Homo sapiens: one gene and its partners. The protein of the gene in region 3 purifies or fractionates together with the protein of the main gene of each other region. This does not show direct contact. Each region holds a gene or a part of one and is shown on either strand. Other genes may lie near its edges.

Evidence for each region.
Region 1: the proteins of TNFSF8 (region 3) and CYB5D2 purify together in Homo sapiens (co-immunoprecipitation; 3 studies listed by BioGRID and IntAct, with this or other methods). This does not show direct contact.
Region 2: the proteins of TNFSF8 (region 3) and TOR1B purify together in Homo sapiens (co-immunoprecipitation; 3 studies listed by BioGRID and IntAct, with this or other methods). This does not show direct contact.
Region 4: the proteins of TNFSF8 (region 3) and OCLN purify together in Homo sapiens (co-immunoprecipitation; 3 studies listed by BioGRID and IntAct, with this or other methods). This does not show direct contact.

Annotation. Positions count from the first base shown.
Region 1 is NC_000017.11:4,153,176-4,158,212, reverse strand, and holds the end of CYB5D2 (neuferricin isoform 1 precursor), read right to left. Parts: intron 3,540-5,037; coding exon 3,353-3,539; exon of another isoform or gene 3,290-3,352; intron 2,924-3,289; exon of another isoform or gene 2,789-2,923; intron 2,267-2,788; exon of another isoform or gene 2,020-2,266; intron 1,348-2,019; coding exon 1,131-1,347; 3' UTR 516-1,130; downstream 1-515. UniProt on the Homo sapiens protein: Heme-binding protein which promotes neuronal but not astrocyte differentiation.
Region 2 is NC_000009.12:129,806,183-129,811,816, reverse strand, and holds the end of TOR1B (torsin-1B isoform 1 precursor), read right to left. Parts: intron 4,630-5,634; coding exon 4,454-4,629; intron 2,913-4,453; coding exon 2,785-2,912; exon of another isoform or gene 2,749-2,784; intron 2,476-2,748; coding exon 2,234-2,475; 3' UTR 1,591-2,233; coding exon of another isoform or gene 1,484-1,590; 3' UTR 536-1,483; downstream 1-535. UniProt on the Homo sapiens protein: May serve as a molecular chaperone assisting in the proper folding of secreted and/or membrane proteins. Plays a role in non-neural cells nuclear envelope and endoplasmic reticulum integrity. May have a redundant function with TOR1A in non-neural tissues.
Region 3 is NC_000009.12:114,927,558-114,934,779, forward strand, and holds the start of TNFSF8 (tumor necrosis factor ligand superfamily member 8), read right to left. Parts: upstream 3,035-7,222; 5' UTR 2,747-3,034; coding exon 2,552-2,746; intron 1-2,551.
Region 4 is NC_000005.10:69,488,866-69,495,806, forward strand, and holds the start of OCLN (occludin), read left to right. Parts: upstream 1-3,924; 5' UTR 3,925-4,035; intron 4,036-6,160; exon of another isoform or gene 6,161-6,550; intron 6,551-6,941. UniProt on the Homo sapiens protein: May play a role in the formation and regulation of the tight junction (TJ) paracellular permeability barrier.

The DNA of each region.
Region 1 (5,037 bases), on a different chromosome or scaffold from region 3:
AGGAGCCATGAGCCAGAGCCCAAGTGTAAGGAACAGCTGTGGCCATAGGGGCAATAAGCCCGGGTCTGCCAGTGAGGGGACAGGGGCAGTGAGCACGGGTCTGCCAGTGAGGGGACAGGGGCAGTGAGCACGGGTCTGCCAGTGAAGGGGACAGGGGCAGTGAGTACGGGTCTGCCAGTGAAGGGGAGGCAGCCTCCATTTTCTAGTCTGTGAATCTGGAAAGCGATTTAGTGAAATGAATGATGGAGAAAAAGGAGACAGTGACAGAGAGGGAGGAAGCTGGTGGATGTTGAGGGTGAGACTGAGCGGCAAAGGGAGCTGGGTGGAAGCTCTGATGAGGCGATGCACAGAGGCCGTGGCGCTGTCTGTGGTAGTGCTGGTCCCACTTCTCTGTCTGAAGTAGGAACACTCCTTGCCCCCATCTACCTTCACAAGTAGTCAAGAGGTAACAGGTATGACATTGCCAGATGACGCTGGACATACAAACCACTGGACAAGCAGCAAGCCCAGCCACCTTAAGTTTGAAGCCTTGCCCAAGCTTTAATGTCATGCTAACCAGTTACCTTGTTAGAGCTGGGAAGCCACCTTTTGCTCAAAATGCAGACTTCTGCCTTTGAAAACACACCACACCTGATTTTAAGTGCTTAAAGGACAGAAAATGTCGTTGCTTTAAATTGTTGCTTTGTTCAGAGACATCTGGATTTGCTGTATCCATACAAGCAAAAGCTTTTCCAATTCCAGAATCAACCCACACTAATTTGTTATTGCCTCGTACTGTATTGGCCCAGCTGTAATCAACTCAGCAGGCTTTTGGTTGTAAATTCAAGTGGAAATTGAGTTGGTCTTATTTGTGCCCGTTGATATCTGAGGGCTGTGAGGAAGATGGCCAGTAGGTCAAAGGGAATAGTGTTGAAAAGCTGACCAGTACTGGGCAGGTGGCCGGCTGTCCCTCAGGCACCACAACGCCGAGCCACGGTAAGGGGCATGAGCCACATTTGCAGAATATAGCCAGAGTCCTTCCAGACCCTCCTGATTCGCGCCAGGAGGCATCCCAGGGCACACAAGTGTCAAGGGCCTACTCAGGTGCTTGGCAGAGCTCTCTGTGTGTTATTAACAGAAGAGGCTACGGCTTAGAGTGGAAAGGAGCATGTGATGGCTAGCGGTGGGCAGCCTGTGTACTCTGCCAAGTTTGGGTGGTCCAGGTCCCCACGATTTCTGTGTGGAGGGTTGTCCGGCATCTGGCCACTAGGGGGGCCGGTGGTTCTCACACACACGCAGCGGGGCTCCTTAGCACCTGGCTTATACAGCTTCCTGGGGACGCCAATCCAGTCTCTGCTCACACCTCCACTAAGGATAGACGGAAAGAGGACTTCTTAAATGTGAGAACTCATGAGTCTCTGGGAAGGGGAGAGCAGGAAGCAGAGAGCCAGGCCTTCTGAAAAGTAGAAGCCTACCAGAGTGTTTCCCAAGGCAGCAGGCTACAGCGCTCAGCCCCTGAGCCTTCATGCTCTCTCCTAACATCCTCCAGCTTCCCCTGCAGGGCCACCACCACCTTCCCCAGGCCAAGGGCACAGTCCATGGTTCCTTTCACTGTGCTCCCCAGCCCCTGCCCTGCCCCTTCTTAGGAGGCAGCACCACGTTCCTGCACTGGTGGCAACAGCTGTGAAAGGGCTTCCCCTGCTGGCCTGTGAGCTTCTCAGAAGCAGTGTCTGGGTGCGACTGTCCTCTTCCTTCCCCACTACAACCCAGCGCAGGTCAGGGTCTTCACCTTCTTCTCTGGGGCACTTGGCTGGGGGTGGGCAATTGGGCCCTGGCCCTTGGCCACCTGGGTCGGCCTTCTCTGGGAAGCCCTTGGCATAGAGTGTAGCTGCAAGCTGTCCTGTGCCCCACAGGTCCAGTCCTTGATGGCACTAGGCTTCAGACACGGAGGATTCAGCTGTGGCCCAACAACCTGAGCACCCTCCTATCTTGGGCAGGGGCCTTGCCCACCTCAGGGCACTGGGCTCAGTCTCTGATGGACTCAGAGGCCTTGCAAGAAAGAAACTGAGGTTCTTGGAACTGACGCCTCAGACAGCTTCCGGTGCCTGCTGTCAGAGAAACTGCCCCCAGCGAGAAAACATCCTACTTCTAGCTTACCAAGAACAAGGCTGTCACCCAAACGCCTCCCTCTTCTACCCAGCCTCCATCCCATCATTGGGGATCTGTACTCCACACCTTGTCCCTGCCTTCGGCACTTGTTCCTCTCAGTCTAATGGGACACACACAGGTGAACAGAAGACAACAAACTGAGCTGAGGCACAGGGATAGGGCCCCGCAGTTCACTAGGGTGGCCCTGGAAGGGTTTTGTGGGGAAGGCAGAGCCTGAACTACTCAGTCATGAAAGCAAGAAGAGGTTCAGGAGACACAGGGGAAGGCTGTGGGGAGGGAAAAGGAGGCAGGGCCCAAGGAAGCAAAGTCAAGCATCTGAACGCACGCAGGCCTCCTGGAGTCTCCTCCTCCTGGAGTCTCAGAGACCAGTGCTCTCTGAGGCTACCTGCATTCAGGCCTGTGTCACAGGAAGGCCCACGCCTATCTTAGCTTCTCTCCATAAAGTGAGCAGGCCAGGTTCTCACAGTCCCCTCTTTCTTGAGATGACACTGGAGAAGCTGTCTCTTCAAAGCTAGCGGCCAGGAAAGAAGGAGCTTTCCTTCCTGCTACCTTTGCCCTTGCTCCGCTCATTTAAGGCTGAGAACTCCGAATTTGCAGTGGTTTTTTTTGTTTGTTACTGTTTTTTTGTTATGTTGCCCAGGCTGGACTCCAACTCCTGAGCTCAAGCGACCTGCCTGCCTCAGTCTCCCAAGTAGCCAGGACCACAGGTGTGGCCCACAAGCCACCATGCCCGCCTCACCTGTTTTTAAGACAGCAGTTGAAGCCATCACTGCAGGTACCCTCCCCACCTCCTCGTCCCTCTCCTATAGATAGGCATGATTTGTGCTGTCAAACAGGAAACCAAAGCCCGTGGGTGGCTGAGCAGGCCAAAGAAAGCAAGAAATCCTGCTTGTGCCTTCTCATTCCCGGGTCAAGGTTGTGTCAGCAGGATCTTTGGAGAATTCGGAAAAAATAAAAAGATGCCCAGGCCTCAAGTCCAAGTCTCAACCCATTCAGTTGAGTGGAGTGAGGTCTGACCATCCGTAATTTCGGCAATTCCCCAGAAGATCTAATATGCAGCCAAAGTTGAGAATTATTATCAGTATTTTGAAAAAGCTCCCCAGGGTTAACAATCAATTCCTGAATTCACTGAATACTGCAGGCAGGATGGCCTAGGAGTTGGATTTGGGACAGGCAGAAAGGAGAAGAAGGGGAGCCTGCTTACCTCTTCTGGGAGCACCAGAGCCGGCTGCCCCTGGCTGAGCTCCACTCCGCGTTGCACGGCGGGAATGTCTGCTTCTCTTGCAGCTGTAGTTTGTTGGCCTCCAAGCCTCTGGTGATCGCAGCTTCTACCTGGGTCAGTGCCGGGGTGGGCAGCCCATCCTCTCCGTAGAACCGTCCTGTCACCCTCCCTGTGATGACAGGAAGGCAGATGTGAGTGAGAGTGAATACTCAGCTGCTGAGGCAGGTGTGGGAAGGCACAAGTTCCCAGGGTTTCTGACTTCAGTCCTGCTGGTGCGCGTTTAATAAGAACTTCTACTGCAGGCACTCCTGGTGCCTTGCACACCAACCTCTTAGCACCCTACAAGCCCCCACACAGCTGCATCCCTCTTCTAGCTGCAGAGCCCTTCAGCACAGAAACCATCAAACCTCTCTCACTTCCAGACAAGGCTTCCCTGAGGGCACAGCCATGTGTGATTCATTTCTCCATGCTTCCATGTGCTTGGAGCACACGCTGGGTATTCAATTAATGTTTGATGAATGAATGGCTTATTGGCTAACATTTTTTAAATGTTTATTATAATAGAGATGGGGTCTCACTCTGTTGACCAGGCTAGTCTTGAACTTCTGGGCTCAAGCAATCCTCCCACCTCAGCTTGTTGAGTAGATGGGGGTACAGGTGTAAGTCACACTGTGCCCGGCTTTAAAATGCCTGTCAGAATTTGTAAAAGTCTAAGCTATGGCAGCAGCCAGCAAGTGGTCCACCAGCCTATAGGCCAGAAGGAAAAACAGGTCAGTTCTCTCAGCCCAGGGTCCTAATGTAGCCCAGTCCTGAGGTGCAAATGCCCTTCAGAGGCAGCACCTGCCACAAGGCAAGAGAAGCAGAAAGGAAGCACTTGAGGGAGGTGCGACCGAAGAGGGAGCAACCCCTAAGAACTAGCTTTACCTTCGATTCTAGTGGCGCGTATGTTCAGCGCATCTGAGATTCAGCTCGTCTCCCAAGTCCAACGCCCTCCCTGACTTTCCCAAATCCGTGTTGCCTCTAGCCTGTGACCTGCATTAGGAGCCTGACTCCTCCTCCTCTACATCCACATCATACTCCCTTCCTTGCTGTCTGATCGGATCCATCAGAAAACCTCGTCAGTCCTACCTCTGAACAGATCCTGATTCTGTTCACTCCTTTCCATTCCCACTGCCATCACCCTCCTCCAAACCACGGACTGTGGCAGTGGCCTCCTAACTGCTCTCTGGTCAGCTCATGCCCTCCTAGAGTTCTCTGTCCATAAAACAACTAGGGGATCTTTTAAAAACATGAATCCTACCATGGCTCTCCGATGCCTGATTAAAACCCTTCAATGGCTTCTTAAAGCAGACAAAAATGCAAATTTCTTATCAAGGCCTCTAAGGCCCTGTAACCATTTAACTGATTTGCTTCTTCAGCCTCTTACAAGCTACGTCCCCCCTCGTTCACGGGGGGCTCCAGCACACTGGCTTCCTTTCTGTGTCTTGGCTGTGCTTCCCCACTCCCCACCTTCGCACCGCTCTTCCCTGACCCAGCACACTCTCCTCAGGTCTCGGTGTGGCTGCCTCCCACTCACCTGCCGGTCTCAGCTTAACGGTCATTTTCTCCAAGAAGCCACTCCTGAGCATGTGCTCTAAAGGAGCCAAAGCTCCCAAACGTATTACATC
Region 2 (5,634 bases), about 15 Mb from region 3:
CCACCTCAGGTGACCCACCCACCTCGGCCTCCCAAAGTGCTGGAATTACAGGTGTGAGCCACCGCACCCGGCCAGGATTTATTTACCAGTTTCAATGGTTAGGTTTCCTCACCTGAGCTCAGGTTCAGGCTGTCAGAGGTGAGTTTTACTTTACCAGTACCTCAATTTCCTCCCACGTTAATTTTGGGAGAAAGTCCATCTCTTTGATGAAATATCCATCAGCTAATTTAACTTCTATTTGTCTGGGGAAGAGCCTTTAAGGTAAATATTGCTTCTGTATCGCGCTGACTGCCCACCCGCCTGTCCCGGATATGGTGAGTCTCACAGCTGTGCTGCTGAAATTCATTCTGAACTTTGGAACCAAATAAACTAGAAAAAGTTAGCAAGTGGCATTTCACATGATAAAATCTAGAATTTACTATTTTATAGTCAGTAGGTCAATAAAGCTCTCGTCCACATCTTATAAGGGAGGTGGGGGAGGCGGGGTCATGATCAACCGTAGCCTTTTCAAGTTACAAATCAGTAACGGCAGTCCAAAGGTGGCAAACATATTTATTGCCTCACTGTAAATAGAGAAAATCTTGTCTTCTCTCGACCAGATGCCCAAAAGGTTATAAAAGAAGTATAACTTAGCTCCAATTTGAGGATATGTACTAAAAATTTTAAACGTCACCTTGGTGTTTTTTTCAAGACTAAGTGTGATACCACGTAAGGCATTTCCATGTCATAAATTAATTCTACCATATTTTTATGTAAAAAATGCTGCACGTTGTTGTGTCTGCAGCTGTGCTGTGATTATGAGACAGATACAATGATTCACACTGGCTGGAAGCTAAGTCTCACGTCCCAGGGATCAGGGCAGTCCAGCCCGGTGCTGCCACAAAGGGTGGTGGTATCAGGTCACACCTAGGACCTGCCACTTTAGACTGACCTTGTTTGATCCACGGTTGTGACCATGTATTACCACAAATTTAACAATAAAAAATTGTTTTAAGAGTATCTGAGAAAGGACTAAGCAGTCATTCCATTTTGTGTCCTTCCCTTGTTTTAAAATAAGCAACGTCCTATACTTCCATCATTTAAGATCATCAAGCTGACTTGTTCAGTCTGGGCCCATGTCATCCTTCCAGAACAAGCACATCCTAGGATTTCAAATGGTTCTACAAAATAAAGTGAGAGATTGACCCAAGTATAAAGTCTTAACAAGCATCTCACCATGGGAACCAACGACTCAAATTCAAAGCCAACGGTCTCATTGTGATTCAACTCTATGATATATGGTTGGGGGGACTCTAGCAGAGATCCAAGCTGAGATATGGCACAAGGCAGGCTGGGGCTGATACCAGCTGAGACGGTGAAGGATTCCACAGCCAGGGCTGTATTAGCAGCTAGAGCGATGGACAGGCGGGAGGGGCCTGTCTGTCCAGGTCTGCTGCAGAGGTCTTAGGTGAAGGCCCCACCCCCCCACACACACACACACAGGTCAGCTCAGATCAAGAGTGCTCGGCGGGCACGGCCACATCCTCCGGTCAGACACCGTCTGCACCTCCAGCCCCGATTTTAACTGAGTATACTTCAAGTCAGTGAACTCTGTGTAAAGAACGAGACAGAGCAAAAGGATGTTTTTGGCCAATGAGAACACAGTGCCCCGCAGCCTGCTGGTGAGAACCACCCAGTGCCCCCCAGCCTGCAGCAAGTCCCTGGACTCCTTTAGTTGTGACCGTAGCTTCTGAGGCGCGGGTGCTGTGGGTCAGAAGCTATTGCCGGGCCTGCCATGCACAGCTGTTTTCAGGTACTTCTGTCTCGGTCAGTACATTAAGTGTGAAGGGGATTTTTAAAAGTTCATCTCCAGCTGCAAAGAACAGCTGGACTGCTGCCATCTTGCTAAATGACAAATGCGCGCAATAGATTCACGTGTTTTCCACAATCAACTCTTAGATTCTATATCCCAGCTGGGCACAGTGGCTCATGCCTGTAATCCCAGCTACTCGGGAGGCTGAGGCATGAGAATCACTCAAACCGGGAGCGGAGGTTGCAGTGAGTTGAGGATTGCACCACTGCACTCCAGCTTGGATGACGGAGTGAGACCTCTTCTCAAAAAAAAGATTCTATACCCAAAAGTCTAAGGTGCAAACAGGCAAAACCCCAAAGCGGTCTTCAGGGTTCTTCTGAAAGGCAAGGCCTCTGGCGTGCGGAGCCTCCCAGCTGTCTCCTACCCCATCTGGATAGGAGCTCAGTGGAAATCCAGCCGCGACTGCACAGTCTTGCAGCCCTTGTCTGAGTAGATTTTCTCGTCTCTGGGGAAAAACGTCATTTCCTCTGCCACTCTTGTGACAATGTCTTCATCTATGGCAGAACCACGGGCCCTCATCTCGGCCCTCACACACATTTTCACATGTCTGTACTCCAAAGGCAGGAAGGGGATAAAGTAATCAATGAGGTTTTTGTCGATCAGTCCACTGTGCCACAGGCCACCTGCAGAACAAGACACAGCTGGGTTTCCTGCCACCACCGCCACCTGGCCAAGCTCCAGTCCCGACCCTCAGCACATTCCTCATGTCCGTACCCCTTGAGAGAGTCTCTTGTCAGTGTGCAACAAGCCCATGCAGGACTCAGCTGGACACTCACTCACTGGTTTCTAGCACAGTATGCCCTAAGAAAATTCCTGACTTTAGCAAAGTGAGGAAATCCAGTGGGATCCTGTGGCTTTGTGAAACACTCAATGAAAGAGCAGACGGCTCACTGCTGGACAGTTAAGGGGCTCCTTTACCCTGGTGGACTCACTGTGTTTATTATTGAAGACTCCGACAGACAGTACAGGTTCCAGGTCCTTCAGCTGAATGTCTTCCCTCTTTCTTCCGGCCCGCCAAAAGTCAAGAGCCGTCTTAGTTATAAGGTCCCCGCCTGCATTGCTGAGTTTGCCAGAGAAATAAAGATTAAAATCACATATTAAGACTTCTGTGTCTGCTGGGTGTGGTGGCTCATGCCTGTAATCCCAGCACTTTGGGAGGCCGAGGCAGGTAGATCACCTGAGGTCGGGAGTTCAAGGCCAGCCTGACCAACATAGAGTAACCCCATCTCTACTAAAAACACAAAAATTAGCCAGGCTAATGGTGGTGCATGCCTGTAATCCCAGCTACATGGGAGGCTGAGGTGGGAGAATCGTTTGAATCCGGGAGGTGGAGGTTGCAGCGAGCCGAGATCATGCCATTGCACTCCAGCCTGGGCAACAAAAATGAAACTCGGTCTCAAAAAAAAAAAAAAAAAAAAAAAGACTTCTGTGTCTTACCAAGAAATGAATCTGCTCTAAGTCTATTTTTCCTTTTGAGACACTCTGTCACGCAGGCTGGAGTGCAGTGGCGCAATATCAGCTCACTGCAACCTCCACCTTCCGGGTTCAAGTGATTCTTCTGCCTCAACCTCCTGAGTAGCTGGGATTACAGGCGCCTGCCACGACGCCCCTTCTAATTTTTGTATTTTTAGTAGACACGGGGTTTCACCATGTTGGCCAGCCTGGTCTTGAAATCCTGACCTCAAGTGATCTGCCCACCTTGGCCTCCCAAAGTGCTAGGATTACAGGTGTGAGCCACCACACCCGGCCGAAGATCTATTTTTCATCAAGGAATATTTACTGAGTGCTACTAGACAAAAAAGTGTGCTCTCATGGAACTTAAAGTGTTTATTCACAACTAGCTGGGATAATGCTATGGCCCTTTATAACCCTAAAAACCAACATGCACAGTTAATAAAATTAACTGTTTTCATTTCTGTTTCATTTTTAGGGTCGGGGTCTTGATTGTCACCCAGGCAGGAGTGCAGTGGTATGATCATAGCTCAATAAAACCTTGAACTCCTGGGCTCAACCAATCCTCCTGCCTCGACTTCCCCAGGAGCTGGGACTCCAGGCACATGCCACGATGCCCAGCTAAAATTGCCTGCTATCAGTGATTATTTCTTTTTTTTTTTTTTTTGAGACAGAGTCTCACTCTGTCACCCAGGCTGGAGTGCAGTGGTGTGATCCCGGCTCACTGCAAGCTCCGCCTCCCGGGTTCACGCCATTCTCTTGCCTCAGTCTCCCGAGTAGATGGGACTACAGGCGCCCGCCACCACGCCCGGCTAATTTTTGTATTTTTAGTAGAGACAGGGTTTCACCATGTTAGCCAGGATGGTCTCGATCTCCTGGTGATCCGCCCGCCATGGCCTCCCAAAGTGCTGGGATTACAGGTGTGAGCCACCGCGCCTGGCCCAGTGATTATTTCTTTAGTTCATTTCCACAACCCACACTGTGTGCCATGCTGAGACTGGCAAAGGAAAAGTAAAGCAGTAGGTAAGTGCCTTGTGCCAAGCAGGCACTTTCGTCCTGGTAAACAAAGTGCTGATGGTCCTCAGGACCTCATTTTATCATTGAGAGAATGAAGGGCTTGTGTGCCCCAAAAAACCGCCTCCCGCTGACCTGAGAAAGATGAAGATGGCTTTGCGGTAAGACACTCCGTCAACCTGCTCGTAGTAGTCTAGAAACGGCTTGATTGCGTCAATGATCCCGGGGTGCAATTTATCCATCTCGTCAAATATGAAAACAGAGTTCGCACATGCACTCACATTACCGCGGATCCACTTCTGTAACTGGTCCTGGACCAACCATGAAAGAAGAAACAGGATGCGAAGCTCAAAGGGTGCACCAAGAGGCGCGCAGGCTCCATCTGCTCCTCATGCACTGAAGGACGAGGTCAGAGCTCTTAGAATGGCACCCTCACCCCCACTCGCTAGGTAGCAGCTTTTCTAAAACCTTATCTCTAAAAAGTGGAAATTGGCAGAGATAGATGCTAAAATGCAGAGAAGTTTTTTCCTAACTCAAATGACTATTAAATCTGACTTTTTAAAGGTATAAGAGGTACAAGATCCGTGATTCTTTTCTTCTCTTTTTTGTCTTTGGAAACAGGGTCTCACTCTATCCCCCAGGCTGGTGTGTAGTGGCGTGATCTCAGCTCACTGCAACCTCTGCCTCTTGGGTTCAAGCGATTCCCCGGCCTCAGCCCCCCGTGTAGTTGGGACTACAGGCGCCCCGATCCCCTGCACCATGCCTGGCTAATTTTTGTATTTTTAGTAGAGACAGGGTTGTGCCATGTTGGCCAGGCTCGTCTCAAACTCCTGACCTCAGGTGATCCACCCACCTCACCCTCCCAAAGTGCTGAGATTACAGGAATGAGCCACCCGGCAAGATCCGTGAATATCATTCACTGCTAACGTAGCCATAGTTTTCATCTCTCTTGGACTACAATCTCAAGTTAGTACTATCAGACATACTGAGGAATAAGGAACTAGATCAAGACCTGCACAGTACACAGTGCCCCAGACCAACAGAGCTGACTCAATGACATTTCATGAAAAGCATCTGTTCCAGATGTTTTCTTCAAACAAACATAAAGACACTCAAGCAACAAGCCCTCAACCCCAAAGCGTGAAAGGCTATACCAGGAAACTCCCCCAGACATGCCCTCAACCATTTATATTACTCTGTTTCCGGAGATTTATGAAGAATGTAAAGAACAAGAAAATCCTTCCTTCCTTCCTTTTTAGCAGTCTTCCCTGTCTCACGTCAGTTTGTTGGGCAAACACTTCTACTTCCTTGTTCAG
Region 3 (7,222 bases):
AGGAGTTTTTCTTAAACCTGTCTGGAAAAATATATTCTCTCCTTAACTTGTGGTGTCATGGTATCCCTTTAATCACTCATTATATGTTATGACTTAGCTGTTTTAAATTTTGTCTATACACGTGCCTTGGGATAAGAATTGTGTGACTTCTTGTGCCAGTAAAACCATTCTTATGGTTCTCCACCCCTGTTCCCATCACATACAGAGTGCTAATTGACCATTAACTCATTCCATTTTTAATAATGGTGATGTGAGTCTAAGCTCCTTGGCTTTCTCCCATTGATTTCTTTCCTAGAGTTTCTTTTAGAGTCTCTTCACTTGTCTGAGTTCTTCCTGTTTTCAAGTCAGTCTACATTCCATCTTCCTATAGGAAACCCTTCCTGATAACTCAAGTTAATGGGAAAATGATGCTTTTTTTTTTCTTGTTAGGTCTTACAACAGTTAAGGTCTGAGGAATTTATTGAAAATGATATGTGCAATGCATTTGACACTTTATATACCACGGCTACTATTAACATGGCAAGCCTTAATTTTAAGGAAGCAACTGATATTTCCTGGTCTAAGAAATCACAGCACACCGCACTGTACAATCAGATTGCACAGTGAATCTTTTCATATCCAAACATGAGGGGTAAGTCAAGGAAGTGGATGCACAAGAAGATAAAGCTCCCAAGAGAAGAGTGGGTGCAATGTTTCTTAGTGCTTCTGTGGCTGTCTGTATTGGCAAAGGGGATGCTGCTTGCATCAAGCAATCAAGCAGTATTGGCTCTACCACTTTCTCAGGGTGACGTAGTTCAAGCCCTGTTCCCTCTCTGCTCCTCATTTTCCACATTTACAAAAATGAGGCAGAAAGATCTGCTCTGGTTCTTTTATAGAAGAAATCAATTCAACTAAAAGTTGGATATGAATGAGCTCTGAAGTTCTCTCTAGCTTTATATATCACCATCGCCACCCATTTTTCCACCATCTCTCTCTCTCTCTCAGCAGTTCTAGTTGGATCCTTTAACTAAAGAACTTCTTAAAGGACACTTCAATTTCTTTTCTTTGGCCATTGCTATAAAATGACATACCCTTGGTTCACTCCAAATTAGAATTACAGAAATTGCAGAGCCCCTGCAGAAGAAAAGATGTCCTAAAGTGTTTTCAAGATTATTATACTTAATAGATGTAGATAAGCCATTAAATTATGAGTTTTAAGAATTCCACTATCTAAATCAAATATTTGCAACTCCTTCTTTTCACTTTTGTAGAGATATGAGCTTCAAAGCTTCCATTTAATTTCAAAGCTTGATGACACTTGAGAAATAGATATCAAAGCCTTTTAAAGCCTAGTTCTTTCCAGCAATTGATAAGCTATAGAGTACTTGGCCTAAGAAAACTGAAGAAAAACCAGAATAAATTCAGCAGGATTATAATACCACGAAAAGTAGGCACTATGAAGTAAGAAACAGAAATATTCTCACTTTGGCAGGTCATGTGGGTGGGTGCAGCTCTTAAATTACCCATTAACAACTTCATCAAAAAATTCATGAGCAATATATGCTATTACTACAGCATTTTCTATATAATATATACTGGTAGATTCTCTGTAAACACCAATTTTCTAAAATATGAAGAAGCTTCCTCTTTCTCCTCCTCTTCTGTTTTCAGAAACAAATCTTACCATTTACTTCAAAGTAAATCTCCGAAGACAGTCTGACCCTGTACAGTGTGTACCCAACGATTGCTTAGTATTGTGAGGAACATCAGAGAGAACAGGTGCTAAAAACCTTTCAACTTTCTGCTTCTATGTGCTGTTTCTTTTTTTTTTTTTTTTGTGACGCCCTAACTTCTTCAAAGTTGTGGCTTAAGAGGAAGCTTTCGATTTGTCTTGCTGGCTTTAACACCAAAATGTCCAAAGCTCTAAGAAGCCATGGTCTTCTCTTTCGCCTCCTTTCCTTCTAGACCTTGGCCTCTGAAACTTAGCTCCTTGTATAAAACAAAAGCAAAAACAAAACTCTTGGCAATGGGTGAGGCCTCAGAAACCTCCAGGACACTCAGACTTAGGATATAGAACCTCAGAATCCAGTCTGAAGTCCTTGAAGACATGATAACAACTTGTGCAAATGTGTTATCAGGTTTCTCTATTGCTTCCTTCCTTGATATGGGTCTCTGGCTCATTAAGATTTAAATCTTAACTTTAAAAGGCCAATAGCTCCCCTCCACTGTTTTGCTCAGACAGATCTGCAAAGTTTTAAGATGATGGTCTAACAATATTTTTCTCAACAAGCCAAATTATTTTAGAGAGTTAAGTTCCTCTTTCTTTTCTCCCTTTCTCATATATATATATATATATAATATATACTGTATAATATAATATATATTATGTAACATAAGTGTATTACGTTATACAGTATATACTATAGTATATATATATATATAGAGAGAGAGAGTTTATTTATTTAATTTTATTTTGTGCTCTTAACCAACAAACGAATATCATTTGTTCCCAGGGCTCTTTCTCTCGGGAAAACAACAAGAAAAGGAAAGGGAGGAAGAGGAGTCCACTTACCGTCCTCTGAACGACCAACACCATAATAGTGGCCACCGTGAAGACAAGGCACAGAGCCAGAGTGGCTGTGGTCAAATAGAAATAGCTGCGGCTCGTGGTCCCCAGGTGGCTGGCCACGGAGCCCGCCGGCACATGCATGGCTGTGTCTCCAGGAGGGGCCATTCCGTTGAGTGCTTGCTGCAGCCCTGGGTCCATTCTTTATATAGTCTTCCCCACATCACACCTTATCTCTCTTCATCTGATTCAGTTCTGGGCCCATCTCTGTTCCAAGAAGGATTCTCCCCCTGAATCCTGAATCATGTGACTTGGAAAAAAACCTTCACCTGCTGCCTGGTGGAGAAACTCTTCTCTGGGGGCGTGAGGCGAGAGGCGGCAGCAAGGGTGGGGGAGAGGTTCATTTTTCATTGCCAGGGATTAAGTTGTGTGCAGAGAAACTAGCTACAGAGAAGGTGGCTGATGTCAGAGGGCGCGTAGGAAAATGACGGTTCCCCGACTGTGTGTGTGTATGTGTGTGTGTGTGTGTGTGTGTGTGCATGCGTGCGCACACACAAAGCAACTTCTGTTTCGTTTAGACTCTGCCACAAAACGCCTTCCTGTTCAAGAAGCTGCACCTTCTTTCAGCGAGGCCTGTGGCTCAGAAGACCTCCCCAGATAATGAGTCCTTGCTGGGTCTCAGGGAGGCCGGATCCCTCGGACTGCAGTGTAATAACTCCAAAGGGTTCGGTTTGATAGGCTACTGCTGAAAAAGGGACATGCTGCAGGTTCCCTGGGGGAAAAAGGGCACACAAATGGAGATATTTCTCCAAAGGGGGACTGGCTCATGGCAGTATGAAATTTGGGGTTCAAAGATACTGTCAGAAAGCAGGAATCTGGAAATATCAATCTTTTGAACAAACACTCCTGCAGAAGTTTTGGGATCTGTTAAACTGGCAGATGAACCTGGACCTGCCGTAAAACTCATGAAGAGGGGAAGGAATTGGCAGTGAGATGGTGTGGTGTGGAATATGGGGGCTGTGTGTGTTCTGCGTGGTGTACTATGTAGTGTGTGTGTATTTGTGGTATGGGGGTATGTGTAGGTGTTGTGTGTTCTCTATGGTATATGTATGCAGTGTGTGTGTGGTGTGCATTTGTGATCTGCAATGCATGCCGAGTGTGGTGCGTATGTAAGTGTTGTGTGTGGTGTGTATGTATGTGTTGTGTGTGGTGTGTTGTGTCTTGTGTATGTATGTGTTGTGTGTGTATGTGACTACTATAATTGAACCTCTACTGTCTCAGGCACAGCGCTAGGAGTTACATGTGGCTTCATTCCACTTCCACCTCCACCCTCCGAGGCAGGCAATGTTTATTTTTTACAGATGGGAAAACTGAGGCTCAGGGAGGATGAAAACTATCTCAACCTAAGTCGCAAGTGTCGATCACTGAAAGAACTTGGGTGCACTTTGCAGCCTGCCTGGCTGAAAGCTCGTGCTAAGTCATTCAATCTTCACTGCACCTGAAAGCTAAAACCTGAAGTGTGGTCTCAGCCCTTTCCCTTCTTAGCCTTGGGCCATCATACAAGTCTTTATGGCTTTCTCTGTTCCCAATCTGCATTACAGTCATCAGGAAGACCAAGCGAGATGATGTCAGAGTACTCCATGAATAAAAATAGATTTGGGGATGGTGTTGGACAATTCCTGTTAAACATCCCAAGCTGTCTACTGGGCTAAGTCTGGAATTTAGATACAATAGACAGATTACCTGGGGGACAGAGTCAGATCACATCTGTGGTTACTAATGATCTCCATTTCAAAATACCGTTTAAAATGTTAATCACTGCATAGCTGCTGCCTCCAGATGTGGGCCTTTGAAAGCTCCATTTGGTATCACCGTGGAAGAAGCTCATTCTGCATAGCACCTCCTTTCCTTTCTGCTCACTTTTTGTCTGCAGCGCATCACTTTGAGCCAGCAGAGATCCCAGATGCCCCTAAGGAAACGTCCTGTGTCTAAAGCCAAGCTTGGATTATTACCACTGCTGTTCTTGCATAGAACCAAAACTTCTGAGCATCTCCCAAATTAGATCAGGCTTTAGGATTTGGTCTGGATATTTCCTCCCAGTGAGTCTGTAAAAGCATAGATCCTGGAGACGAAAGAGACATCAAGAGATAAATTGTTTTCTTGGGCTAAATAGAGTGGGGGGCGATATACCCATTTTACAATCAAGGAAACCGAGGCCCCCGTGATCCCAATTGAGTTTGGTTTTGAAAACAGTGTGTTCACGTTCGTTTGGTCCGGTAATTAAGGTGGGAACGAGGCAAGCCAGTGTTTTCTGGGGCATGTACCTGGCTGATTTGGGGAGAAGGCTGTGTCCTCTGGTGGGCACGGACAGTGAGTGGGTAGCAAGGGCTCTGTGGTCTGCCCAGAGTTGCTGAGAACCAGCTGCTCCCTTGGCCCTCTTGTTCAGCCTCTTTGATCAAAGTGGAAAACTTCTGATTGTTGAATGGAAGCTGTGGGTGTTGAAAAATAAAAAGGCTTTGCTTGAAGTTCGGGTCTTCCTGAAGGCCTGTGGGGCTGAGAAGGGCAGTGGAAAAAAATGTTTGTCTTACAGTTACCCGTTTTGCATACAATACAATGTCCTGGGAGGGAAGGCTGACAAGGGGGAAAAATCACCCTTTGTTTTTACTCAACTTTCTGAGCAGTTGAGATTTTCGGATCAGTTCCTAGTACAGTAGTTTGTGGGCTCAATTCATTCTTTTGCTGTGACACTCCTCTACTCACAAACCTTCAGTGGCTCCCTATTTCCCACCCCCATTGCTCTAAGCCCCTCTCTGCTTTCCAGCTGTTCTAGAATCTAGCCTGGCCAACATAGAAATCCATGACCTGTGCTAACTGGCTTCTTTCTGTCTTCTACTCAAGCTGTACGATGTGCAGATGGAAGGAGCCTTTATAGAATTTCTTGTTGAGTAAGTTTTAAATCCTTTCTGGAAGCAAAGCTGTATAAGGAATATAAAAACATAAGAAAACAGGGCTGCTTTGGCTGAAGCACAGGTGGGACAAAGAGAAGGGCTAAGCTTCACCTGCTCATTTGCCCTTTTCTGGCATGGGGTCTCTCCAAGGTGAATAAAATTTAGAAACTTCAGAAAATTTGGCTTGAATCCTTCATTCCACAAAAGGAGGAAACTGGGACACAGAAATGGGAACAACTAAAGGAAGTACATACCATCAGGGAGAGAGACAGGTGTAAGAGTCCCTTCTGCTCATTCTCTCTCCTTTTTTTTTTTTTTTTTTTTTTTTGACTGAGTCTCGCCCTGTCACCCAGGTTGGAGTGTAATGGCGCAATCTCGGCTCACTGCAACCTCTGCCTCCTAGGTTCAAGTGATTCTCCTGCCTCAGCCTCCTGAGTTGCTGGGATTACAGGCACACACCCCTAGGCCTGGCTATTTTTTTTTTTTTTTAATCTTTTGTAGAGATAGGGTTTCACCATGTTGGCCAGGCTGGTCTTGAACTCCTGACCTCGTAATCTGCCTGTCTCGGCCTCCCAAAGTGCTGGGATTACAGGCATGAGCTACCGCACCCAACCCCCTCTGCTTGCCCGGCCCTCTCTGCTCATTCTCATGTCGGCTCTGCTAATATTCCAGGTGCATCCAGGCTTCCTCTCGTGTTTTACTTGGCTTTCCACTGCTCCTGTTCTTCCTCTCCCTTCCAGCCTTTGCCAACCCGCCTCACCATCTCCAGGAATGCTTGCCCAGATCTCTCAAGTCCACCAACACCCTCTCTGGAATGCCTCTATTTTCATGCCACATAACCTAATTGTCTAATTATCTACTTCTCTTGATGTGGAACCCAAGTGTGTAAACACATGTAAATGTTGCCTTGCTCATAAGATGAGAGTCCCTGAGGGCGGTCTGCACTTTCCTAGTCTTCTAAGTCCTTGCATCCCACCTTGCGTTTCTTGCTGCTGGTCATATATGCAGGGTTGACCTTCAATCTATGCTTCATGTTTATGGAAAGAGAAAGTTCTAGAAGAGTGGCTTATGTAAAGGAATTGTGTGGTGGCATTCTTGCCTCTCTCTTCTCAACTGTACTCCGTGTCTCTATCTTTCTCCAGAGAATGGCCTCATGAGAGTGACCACCCAGCCTCCTTTCAGCCTGGAATTGGCTGCTGAGATGTGGCTGCAGTGCCTGAGACTCAGTGGGCAAATAGAACTAACGTCTCATCCCTTCAAGAAGGAAAGCCATTTTGAAAAGTAAAGGGAAGCCAGCAGTAGCCATTCCTCCAACATTGCTTTCCTGTATAAGGGACTGGGAGATCTCTGTTGTAGAGACTAGAGGCCTTCAGGTGTAAGCCCACACCAGCAGTGGCAGCAGTAGCACCTGGGAACTTGGTGCCACTTTAAGACCCTCTAGACCTACTCTAATTCAGAAACTCAGGCTGGGGTCTGGTAGTCTGTTTTAACAAAGCACCCCAGGGAATGCAGATGCCTGAGACCATTTGAAAAACACTGATTTAGGGAAACAATCTCCAAGAGATCATCTGGTCCAAAATTTAGCCTTTGGACAGGTAAACTACCACCTCCATTGTGTAGGTAGGGAAACTGAGGCATAATAAAAGTTATTGTCTGGGGCCATGTAGCTGGGTCATGTTGGTTTACAGACTAGTTTTTCTGCTCCCTTTATTGAGCCCTCTTTCTAACC
Region 4 (6,941 bases), on a different chromosome or scaffold from region 3:
AGCTGATCACACCATTGCACTCCAGCCTGGGCTACGGAGGAGACTCTGTTTCAAAACAAACAAACAGAAAACCAAAAAAACACTTAGCATAGTACTTAGAACATGTTTTTCCCTGAGTAAATGGTGCTATTATTATTCTTCCACCTGTTGAAGTTCCTGTTCAGGTGCTGAGTCTCTTTGTTTAAATATGGATTCCTCCCAGGAGGATCTTGCTTAACACATAGGAATAGAGAAGATAAAGGTTTACTCATCTAGTGTAATCATCCTTTTAGAAATTGTCTTCCTAGTGGCTTCCCCATAAATTCTTCCATACACCTGTCCAAGGAAACTGTCCTGTGTGGACCAGAAGCCTCCCCCTCCTCATGACTGGGCAGAGAAACTAGAGGCCTTTCAGGCCAGGCCCTCAGCAACTCCAAACTGAGTTGCCTTGGACACATACCAGTCTTTGAATTCATTTACTAAGCAGGCAAGGCAGAGTGGAAACAGTGGAACTATGTTAATCTCCCGTCTTTTCTCCTCTAAACCCTAGTACTAGAGATGTAAGCCTTGAAATGCTACTAAGGAACGTGCGGGTTTCACAATAGCAGGAGGCCATCTGAGAGGAGGACAAGACTCCACAGGCATGTTGGATTTGGGAAGCAGGGCTATAGTCATTCATTCATTCATCCAACACATAGTTATGTAATTCCTATGTGACAGGAACTATTTCAGGCATATAGGATACAGCAATGGCTTGCTCAATTTATTGAGACTTGTTTCGTGGCTCAGCATATAGTCTGTCTTGGTGAATGCTCCACATTCCCACCAACAGACTTATAAAGACAGTATTGTTTATTATCATCTCAAATTTACGGTGGAAAAAAATGAACCTTACATAGTTTAATTTCCTTTAGTCCTACCCAGCTACCAAGTAGCAACACTGGAATTTGAACTGAGATTTCTGACACCATAATCTGAGCTCTTAAGTTTCTCTTTTACACATAGAAAAGGAGAAACAAATTGTCTTTTCATCTTATCCATTTGACTGCAGGTAAAGTCAACAAGTTTCTAATCATGGGGTTCTGAAAATAATATTTACATTGCTCTGAGTCACGGGGATTTTCATCAAATAATATTCAATAGTGGATACTACTCAATACTACTGTGAGTTGCCAAGAAGGAATATTTGGTAAAAAATATAGTAATTAAATTTTGCTATAATTTATGATTATGTAACATGATTAAATTGAGCATGGCATCATTTAACATCCAACAAATTTTGTTTTGGTATTGAAGAATGATGTGTTTAAGTTTTAAGGCTGGATTTTCTTTCTAGACACTTTCAACTATGAAATATACACAATATTGGACAATAGTTAACCGTTCTTTTGATGTTGTTGTTTAGAAAATTAATCTCAAGCGAATAAAATAGAATTCATACAATTAATGAATCCTATTATTCCATATGGATGAACTCAGAACTAACTAGAAAGTAAGTTTCACAGAGATTTTTGAGTTTTGTTCACTCGTGTGTGTACAGATTAGGCACTCAGAAAATAGTTGAAGGAATGAATTGGGAAAGCAAATAGAATATGAAAGCCTTCTACCCAACACAACATGTCTTTGAGTTTAGGTTTAGGGTGGGAATAAGAAAAATAACATGATATGCATAAGTTATCTTAAAATGATAAAAAGTTTAATTTAAAAACCTAATTTACCAAGAGAACCGAAAACATATGTCCACACAAAAACTTGTACACAAATGTTCATAGTAACATTATTCATAACATCCCCAAAGGAGAAACAACCCAAATGTTCATCAACAGATGAATGATTAAACGAAATGTGATACATCGATACAATGGAATATTATTCAGTTATAAAAAGGAATGAAGTACCAATACATACTACATCATGGATGAACCTTTAAAATATTATGCTAAGTGAAAGAAGACAGACACAAAGGGCACATATTGTATTATCCATTCATATAAAATGTCCAGAATAGGCAAATTAATAGAGACAGAAAGTACATTAGTGGTTGCCGAGGGATGAGGGGAGAGGGGAAATGGGGAGTGACTATTAATGGGCATGGGGTTTCTTTTGGGGGCGATTAAAATGGAATTAGATGGTGGTGATGGTTGTACAATCTGGTGAGTATACTAAAACCCACTGAATTGTACGTGCCCTTTAAAAGGGTGAATTTTATGGTATGTGAACTCTCTTTTATAAAGTGGAAAAAAACTCCTAAGATCTCTTCAGAACATGTCAAAATACATTATAAAATAATAGACATGTGTTTACAAATCTGAGAGTATTAGGAAATGTTCCCTTGTTTAATTATAAACCAAATGGAATGTTTGGAGATTTCAGTAATCTGACAGGGAACATTAAGGGGATTAACCTGACTTCCCCAGTGTTAACAATACCAATTTAAACTGCATCATTCAAAAACTACATAGTCATATTAAAGCATTTGTAGCAATGACTTCCACGAAAAAAATACCAATTAAATTAATTACCCATTAAAGCTGCCATCATCTGAAATACCTCATATTTATATAGTGCTTTTACTTCCTCAAGTATGAATTGTGCCTTAAGATCTAATGTATGGGAGAGTCACATCTCTAACCATTTAATTAAAGGTAGAGAAGTGGGTGGGATTGGATAGAAATTTATTAGCAATGCTGACATTCCAGATTGGAACACAAAGACAAGCAGGATGTAAGAAACCTAAAAGTTCGCTTTCAATGCAGATAGTTAAATGCCAAGAACTATAATTGCCACATCCTGGAGTACAATTAAAAAATATGTTGAAAAACAACCAACATACATAAAAATATACACAGTGTTAAGTGCAGACTATGAAATTTCCCTTGGAAACAGAATCCAGATCAAGAAATAGAATACAGCACCCGGAACTAAGGTGCTTTTTCGTTTTCTTAAAAAAAAAAAAAAAGTAAACCAAGTTTATTTTGCTTTTTAAGTAGTGTTGTTCTTAAAGCACTACAGGTTGGTAAACAACGTATAAGGTGCTTTTTCTCAGGCCAAAGAGCCATAATAGTTTAAATTTCCCGGTCCTCAAGAGCGGACCGGGTGGGCAGGAGAGGACCCTGGGGTGGTGATGTGTAAACTGTATTATGCACTTTAGCCTGCTGGATGGCAACTAACACCTACAGTAGTTCACCCTCATTTTAACCCCTCTAAGTAATTGTCTCTTATTCTGAATCTAGAGATTCAGAAACAGCGCCAATGTTTACACACGACTTTTGAAATTTTCCCAGGAGTCTTTCGTTGGAGCAATACATCTAGATGCCTTTTTCCAGCAACAGTTTAATCAAATTCTGGAAGCAGAAAAGTGTCCTGTGAGGACGTGCCTTTCCTATCAAAGTGCTGAGTGCCTGGACCCTCTTTCCGGAGGAAACAGTCCCCTCTGGACCTCGTTCGGCCTCTCTCCATCAGACACCCCAAGGTTCCATCCGAAGCAGGCGGAGCACCGAACGCACCCCGGGGTGGTCAGGGACCCCCATCCGTGCTGCCCCCTAGGAGCCCGCGCCTCTCCTCTGCGCCCCGCCTCTCGGGCCGCAACGTCGCGCGGTTCCTTTAACAGCGCGCTGGCAGGGTGTGGGAAGCAGGACCGCGTCCTCCCGCCCCCTCCCATCCGAGTTTCAGGTGAATTGGTCACCGAGGGAGGAGGCCGACACACCACACCTACACTCCCGCGTCCACCTCTCCCTCCCTGCTTCCTCTGGCGGAGGCGGCAGGAACCGAGAGCCAGGTCCAGAGCGCCGAGGAGCCGGTCTAGGACGCAGCAGGTGGGACTCGCGGCGCTGGCCCGCAGGCTTCCCGCACCCCCTTCCACGTTGGTGCGCATGCCCGGGGGCAGGGCCGGTTGTAGGGAGGAGGGAAAGGAGAGGGAGAAGGGGGAGGAGACGTCCCCAGCCCAGTCCCCGGCTGAGCGCTGGCGGTCGGTGCGGCGTCAGGTGCGCCCGCCAGGTGAGCGCGCTCCCTGGCACCGTTGGCCCCCGGAGGGTCGGGCCCAGTTGCGGCGAGCGGGTGAGTGTTGGGCGCGGCGTCAGGGGCGCACGGGAGCCCGAGGGTCCCCGTGGGGGGACCGCGGCGACTATGTTAGGGGAGGTGCCGGGGGGAGGACGCTCCGCGCTGGTTTCGGTGGCAGTTTCGTCCCCGAGCTGGGACTCGTGGGAACCAGAGAGGCGCGGGTCTGCGGAGAGAGCAGCACCGGCCAACTTGGGAGGCTGCCTCCTGGGGCGAGGGGTGGCTTGGAGCCGCCGATCAAGCTTTATTCCGCGGAAACGCTGAAAGCTAGCAGTGCCTCAGCGGCGCGGGCAACTTTTCACTTTTATGGGGCACGACATTCCTGAACAGCGACGATCCTGCATCCGCTCTGGGGCTGCAGTTTGGGGGGGCGGCCTTCATGGAGAGGGATCCTGCGCCCAGCTCCTTGGGGGTCCTAAGCCTGAGGCTGCAGCGAGGCGGCTGTTCGGCGGCCCGGGCGGCTTAGATCCCGGGGGGAATTTCATTCCTTCCGCTCCCACCCCACCCCTTTGGATATCCCGGGGAGACGGGGGCTGGATTCAATCTGTGAAATATTCCAGGAGTCACGGTGTGGGCCACACTGGCTACTTCGAATCCACTTGTTGCGAGTTGTGTGAACCCGCGTCGATTTAAGCTGGGGGGCGGGGAGTTAATTTCGAGTGAGGCTGGACTTCGAGGGAAGCTGCTCACGCTTCGGATTCTCATCCGTGACCAAAAGGGCTGCCCCCAGGGGGGCGGAACTGCCTCCGGGCGGTGCCTGCCCGGCGAACGTGGGCGCGCGCTGCCTGGGAGCGCCTCGGTGCGCACGGAAGCCGGGACCCGCGCCCAGCCGGGCCACGGAGTTTGGGGACCTCCGGGACTGGGCCGGCCCCGCGCGCCAGCCATGTTGCCTGCGTCGGAGGAAGCGTGCGGGGAGCAGGGGTCGAGGGCCAAGATGGCCTCTGCGCCTAGGGGTTGGGAGCGGCGCCGAGCCCCTCGCGCTCCTCGGGAAGCCACCGGGCCCGAGGGAAAAGCCGCGGCATCCTTAGGCCGGACCCGGGGCTCGCTGGCCACACTGCCCGCTTGGGGAATTACCCTGCTCGAGGAGGAGGCGGCGGCTTTCCAGGCCAGTCAGTGTGTGGCCCTTAGGCAACAGGTGTATTATTGGGATACCTGGAAAAGAGAAACGTTTCCCATGAAGGCACTTATGGTGTTTTTTGGTGATTCTTGGTGTGATAGAAAACTAGGCGTTCCCAAGTGTAACAATAGTAACAGTAGTTCTTTTGCACTGTACATATGAGGTGCTTGTGTGTGTGTGTGTGTGTGTTTTTCCGAGACGGAGTCTGGCTCTGTCCCCCAGTGCAGTGGCATCATCTGGGCTCACTGCAACCTCTGCCTCCCGGGTTCAAGCGATTCTCCTGCTCAGCCTCCCGAATAGCTGGGATTACAGGCACCCACTAGTATGCACAGCTAATTTTTGTATTTTTAGTAGAGACAGGGTTTTGCCATTTGGTCAGGCTGGTCTCGAACTCCTGACCTCAGGTGATTCGCCCGCCTTGGCCTCCCAAAGTGCTGGGATTACAGGCGTAAGCCACCACACCCAGCCTTTATGAATATTTTCTTAGTGGTGCTTTAAAATAGACATCTTAAGTGTGTGTGGGAGGCAGAGATATTTCCTCAAACAAAGCAACACTTTTTTTTTGGTCGTTTTGCAATTTATTTAGTTATTAGGGGCCTCCTTTGTTAGGTGACGGAGCAGAGGATAGGGAGATCGGTAAGACATGATTCTCCACCTTTTGGCAGTTTCCAGGCCATTTCGGGAAATAGTGGGCAGCAGTGCCTCCTGCACGTGAGGCACTGTGGTAAAAGCATTCTGTATTTTCTCATTTAATTATCCCAACAACTCTAAAAGGCAGGCCTTAGTAGAACTCCATTTTAAAAGTGGGCAAATGCCGTGGGGGAAACGTTGCAGGTGGGCTTGCTTGCAAACTGCTTCAGCTAATATGGGAAGGAGTATCAGAAGCAGCGGTCCTTGATATTCCAGAACCAGATTTGGGGAATTTTTCTGGACTTTTCTACCATTGACTAGTAACTGTAGCCTGATACAAGATTTCCCGCATTTTGCTTGATATCAAGGTAAAATTCTTGTTTTCTTCTAAAGGTAGTGTTGGAATTACTACCTTTTCAAAATAGTATATTACTTTTAACCACATAAATGATCTGATGTAATATCTTTCATCTTCCTAGGAACCTCCCAGAAGGAAGTTTTCTTCAGTTGCATTTTAAGGCTTATTTGATTGGAATATTAATGGATCTTTTTCATCAAATTACTATTTATGGAAATAAGAGAGTAAACAGACCATGCAGATTTATGTTAGGCTTTTTGTTTTAACCCCTAGGCTTGCCGCTGTTCCGTAACCCAGTGATTCCAGTCTTGGCTGTGGTATGAATCACTTAGGGATCCTATTAAAACACAGATTCTGATTGGGAGGTCAGGAGTGGGGCCTGGGATTCTGCCTTTCTAACAGGCTCACAGGTGATTCTCAGACTGTTCTGTCTTCTTTTTCTCCCTTTCTCTTAGACTCTACGCACTTAATTACATTTGACAAACTGAAGTTGGAAAAAATAACGTTTATTGAGTGTTGTGTGAAGAACTTCAAGGCATTCACTGCTGGATTGAAATCCCAACTCTAATAATTGACTGTTGGTTTTATTAATTGAGTACTCATTGACAATCACTTTGTGCCAGGGCTAGTTCCAGCGACCAGGGATATAAATGATGGTCAAAATAGACATTTGATGTCTGGGATATGGGCATTCCAGATGCGGTGGAGATGATACCTATATTTTAGGTATGAGGGCAGAGGGGAGTTTGCTCTGAAAAAAAAAACAAGTTTTGTGTGATGGAGTGAGGGACAGGGAGGGCA